Homo sapiens: one gene and its partner. The protein of the gene in region 2 purifies or fractionates together with the protein of the main gene of each other region. This does not show direct contact. Each region holds a gene or a part of one and is shown on either strand. Other genes may lie near its edges.

Region 1 (2,359 bases), on a different chromosome or scaffold from region 2:
GTGTTTCTGAGTTACACAAGTCATTTGTTTAGCAATCCTGTTTCAAGTCAATTATTCAACAGTGTATTTAATCAGAAGGGCCTTGTTCAAAAAGAATCTAGAGAGGCTACTAACCCATTCCTAAGTAAAGAAACCAAATCTATCAGTGAAGAAAGTTTCCACCAGCTGTTCAGGTAATCTGCACATAGCAGCATTCCTTTTTTTTTTTTGATACAGAGTGTCGCTCTTGTTGCCCAGGCTGGAGTGCAATGGCACCATCTTGGCTCACTGCAACCTCCGCCTCCCGGGTTCAAGTGATTCTCCTGCCTCAGCCTCCCAAGTAGCTGGGATTACATGTATATGCCACCAGGCCCAGAAAATTTTTGTATTTTTAATAAAGACAAAGTTTCACCATGTTAGTCAGGCTGGTCTCAAACTCCTGACCTCAGGTGATCCACCTGCCTTGGCCTCCCAAAGTGCCAGGATTATAAGTGTAAACCACTGCACCTGGCCATAGCAGCATTTCTGAAAACCAAGTATTACTGCCAAAATGGGTTCCTGGAATCTGGATCATTGAAGTTTTGTTTTTAGGACATTCTTAGTTAATCTAGTTCAAAGATTAAAGCTAAATCACTTGTCATAGTGATCCTAAGTCTAATAATTAACCCACAATTGAGAGGCCATGTCACTTTACCCCCACGCTTTGGATTTAAATCAACAAACAAACCAACGTCTCAGTACTGGATCTAAAGTCATGGCTTACGTGCTAAATGTCGTGGCTGAAATGGAATCATCTGCTGAGTGTCTGGTTTAGGGTATTCTGGTTTTCTATCCACTTCATCTTTCAGAACAGGCACTATAGAAGGAGCTACAACTGGGTCCGGAATTATAGCTGCTAGCTTAGCACGGGAGACATCCTGAAAATGCAGAACAGAAGAATCCTAAACCTGAAAAAGGGACTACTAGAGAATAATCATGCAATAACCTTGAGGATACAGTGTGAATATCTGGGTCAAAACCACAGAAAGAAAATGGAGACGGATAAGCAAGGACTCTAATGATGGTAAAGATTGTTACTCAACAAGGAAAGCTATTTGGTTCTAAGACTCAGTGTATCATAACTTTACCCCACACAAGTTACAAGTCATTAAACTTAGTGTTGCCAGGCAGGACATTTGTAGGACAGATACAAGCTTTTTTGGGTAGTCAGACTGGGAACCAAGTAGAGGCCAGGATAATTTGGAGGAAAATTCAAGATTTTAGATCTTCTGACACCTCCCTTCCATTAGAATTGAACACCAGTTTCATTAAATGAAGAAGCTGGATTAAGTGACTTCCTGTTTTGTGAAGGCATCACACCGGTTAAGATTTTGCTAATGCAATGAAAAATTATTTCCAATGTACTATTTATTACAGGGGACAAGGAATATTTACTGAGCAGACACTATTCATCAGGCAATTTTAGCCATTCTGTTTTTAATGAGGGAAATAGTAACATCTCCATTATATAGAAGGGACTGAAGCTCACAAAGGTTTTGATATTTCCCAGGTCACACAGCTAATAAGAAGTAGAGAGAGGAGGATTGGGAGGGCAGGCCTCTCTGACCTCAAATCCATCCACAGTCTTCTTTTCAGTACACTAGCATTGCCCTGCCAGGGCTGAGACAAGATATGCCAAAGGAAGCAATACAGTCACCTATGAACAGAGGCCCTATCTCAGAGGAGCTCCTCTGCTCCAGACAACCCAGTGTTACTCTGTCTGTCTAGAAACAAAAGAACCCCTTTTTGCCGCCATCAAGGGATATAAAAGCATTCCACTTTCTCAAAATTTGTTGAAATGGAGTTGGTGACATCTGGTATTAATTATATAAGCAAATCTAAATGGTAGACACATTGGGTATCGCTTTTTAAAAATCTTTCTCACAGATACATACATACCATACCACCCACCGTTAAACACAGAAGCACATTAATCCTTCCCCAAAAAACAAAAGAGTAGAAATAGAAATACAAGATGGAAAACATCATATTCAGGAAGTAGTTCTACTCCTGAATACTTACTCTCTTTTTTTTTTTTTTTGAGACAGAGTCTCACTCTGTCACCCAGGCTGGAGTACAGTGGTGCTATCTTGGCTCACTACAACCTCCTGGGTTCAAGCAATTCTCCTGCCTCAGCCTCCTGAGTAGCTGGGATTACAGATGCCCGCCACCAAGCCCGGCCAATTTTTGTATTTTAGTAGAGACGGGGTTTCACCATGTTGGCCAGGCTGGTCTCAAACTCCTGACCTCAGGTGATCCACCCACCTTGGCCTCCCAAAGTGCTGGGATTACAGGTGTGAGCCACCACACCTGGCCACTATAAGATCTTTCTTTTCTGTTT
Region 2 (3,137 bases):
TGCAGAAACAACCAAATCCTACTAGTTACATAAATTTTATACTTTGTTAGGACTTGGGTTTTTATTTAGCTCTACATATGCGATCATAGGATGCAGAAGATATATCTTCTACTGGACACGTATATATAGATGCTTAAATGTGGCTATCCCAAGGTTAGGTAATAATAAAGACTATAAGAGCTGGGCAGAAATCAGGCACAGTTTCATGAAGGGTAATATCTGAGCTGGGCCTTGGAAGATGCATAGGATCTCAACAGGACAGTAGGTGTTTCAAGCAACAATGAACTAGGAATACAGCAGAAAGCACAGGGGAAATGGTCAGGCTTGACTGAGAGTAGGTTATTTGAAGAAGTGCAATAGAAAATGCTTGGGGAAGAAAGTTGGGATTTAATTGTAAAAGGTCTTCAAGTATCAGGCTAAGAAATGTGGACTTCATCCAGTAGGTAATGTGATGTCACTGGATATCTGTGCAGTATCTATGTGATGGGTTGGGAGTGGAGAAGCCTGGGGATACTTAAGGGTCTGAGCTAGGAGGGACAGGAGGAATGGCTGTGGGAGTGGAATGGTTAGAAGATGGGCCCAATTAGAAACATACTTCAATTTGAGACAAAACCCACTAGAAATAAACACATCATCATGAAACATCTCCAAATGTACAATTTTATTTTAACAGATTTCAAGAGTCCATTTTTTAAAAAATGAGCAATAAAGAACCTCTATCAGTGAGACTTCTCATTTTATAGCAAATACATTTTTGCAGCTTAAATTTTCTTGAATTCATATACGCTTCTGTCATTTAAACAAACTTCCAGAGAAAACTGGTCTCTATATATTTAAGTAACAAATTTGACAAAATACATATTTATACATATATAGATCTCTAATATAAATATTAAATTTGAAAAAATCAAATGTGAAGCAGAAACTGCTATACAAGTATATTGTATAATATTTATTTTATACATTAAAGTATTTGGTTGAATATACTTCAATTAGGTTTCTAAAAAACACCATTATCTGCTTCTTAGTAATTGCGACATTCTTGAAAAGCATGTGAAACGGGTATAAACTTCAACTCTGTGCTTAATTCAGAATTCCTGTTTGTTCTCCTCAAACTTTTATCTTCCTAAAGCATCTTGCCAGAGACTACAAAGGAAAGGAACATTTACAGAGCACTATAAACATGTCTTTGGACAGTAAAACAGTATTTATTCTTCTACACTCTTGATTTTCCAATCATATCTTCCTCAAGGCAATGTTTCTTTGGCCCAATTTGTGCAACTAAACATAAAATTTCAAAACACAACTTTTAACAGTGTGATATGAAATGCAGTGGCAGTCCCTGCTTTTCGCCTGCTGGCTTCTTTGAAAGAAACTGCTTGGCTAAGGGACTCAGTAGAGGGCTGAGATCTGCCTGAGTATAAAGTGCTACCTGAGCTATATTTACTTCTTCCATCCCTTGGTACAATCAACAGCAAATAGACAAAATGAAGTTACCTTCCTGAGATACATGGCTTACTTTGTACTCTGCCTTTTAGGAGATGAGGTAAGACATATACATAGATGGCTTTTACTAGCCAAGGCAATGTAAATGGACTAAGATTCTCATGTGACTTGAGGTTATCTGATGAATTTATTCTCTTCAAAACCACCTACTTTTAGAGGGCATGTTTAACCCCTCTCTTTATTTAAGGAGGGAGAGAAAAACACATGTAACCAGAATTCAGAGTGGGTTACTCAACCTAAGAGAACATACGGAGTTCTCTTTGGGAAAACAACAAGACTACAGTGTTCACTTCGCACCATGAAGTGGCACTCCTGTTATGGCTGTCAGAGTCCTCTCACTTCTTATGAAAGGATGCATCTGATTCTGAAATTACTGATATATTCGATCAGTTAGGGATGTTTTAAAAAGTGAAAACAAATGCCACACATACACTTTCTAGCTTTCTGAAATCACCGAACACATTACAAAAAATAGAGAATTTACCCTATTAACTTTTAGAGAATTTTCCAATAATATTCTTGGTTAAAGAAGCCAAGTTTGTGCATATTCCCAATTTTCAGTGTTCTTGTTTTTATGCACAAGAGCCAAAGTAGTATACACATATTTTTAAGGGCTTTTTACAATGAACGATATATAAAATACATTCTATAGTTGGTGAAAGAATAATCTTAAGAGTTGGCATTAATCTTTGAACAAAAAAGATTTCAAGCCACTTTCTTTACAAAGAAAATATAATTTCATTGTGAACTATATTTCTCTAATTTTGCCAATTTTATAAAATACAGCATATCCCTGCTTTAATACAACCAGGCATGCTGTGCTGACTGGTCCAATAAATCTAAGTGTTATTTAAGGGAAAGCAGGCAATCTGTTCATACCCAAATTCATACAAGTTTCAAAGAAGCATCAAAGGATGCTACCTACATTCAAGCCACATTGCAATATTAGCTAAGCCACAGTTGCACTCATGAGAGTGAAACTACAGAATAACAACTATTGAAGATTTTAATAGAGTCAAAAGATGAACTGGCAAACCAGGTTGTGGAATCTATTCAGCCTCTCTGCTCTGCTGGAGTGGTTGATTTAGTCTGGTAAGTGGCATATTCAGCTCCACCATCTGCTTTCCTGCAAACCAAGGTATAAAGATCATGTCAAAGATAAATATAATTAAGTACAGAAATTAAATTCCAGAAGCCTATTCAGAAAATGAACAATTAAAAAAATATAGTAATGAGCCACCAACCTGGGAAATAAATTATTCTTTTAAAATAATTTCAAATGTTCAACTGGTCTCACTGTAAAAAAAACCTTCCTTTATCCCTGTCTTATATTTTTGATCCCCTCCAAAACAAGAAATAGAGCAGTAGCACACAAAGTACTTAGTAACTATGTCCTCATTTTGATGTAGGGCCAATGGGAAAGACTGGAGACAAACGCATGCTTTCCTGATCCCTCCATTTTAAAGCTGTAGCTCTGGCACAGAACCTTTAAAAAGATAGTGGTTCTAACTGTTCAAGTATGTGATGCCTCATCTACCCCTCACTGTCAAGAAAATCATGTATTCCACTAAGAGTCTCCTAAATAACTAAAGTTTACGTCACACTTTTAGTATAACAATAGACATCTTTAT

What was found. Proteins that work in one complex are often made in the same cells at the same time.
Region 1: the proteins of CD46 (region 2) and CSTF3 fractionate together in Homo sapiens (co-fractionation; one large-scale study listed by BioGRID). This does not show direct contact.

Annotation. Positions count from the first base shown.
Region 1 is NC_000011.10:33,086,246-33,088,604, forward strand, and holds part of CSTF3 (cleavage stimulation factor subunit 3), read right to left. Parts: intron 897-2,359; coding exon 743-896; intron 1-742. UniProt on the Homo sapiens protein: One of the multiple factors required for polyadenylation and 3'-end cleavage of mammalian pre-mRNAs.
Region 2 is NC_000001.11:207,793,014-207,796,150, reverse strand, and holds the end of CD46 (membrane cofactor protein isoform 3 precursor), read right to left. Parts: intron 2,633-3,137; coding exon of another isoform or gene 2,556-2,632; 3' UTR 647-2,555; downstream 1-646. UniProt on the Homo sapiens protein: Acts as a cofactor for complement factor I, a serine protease which protects autologous cells against complement-mediated injury by cleaving C3b and C4b deposited on host tissue.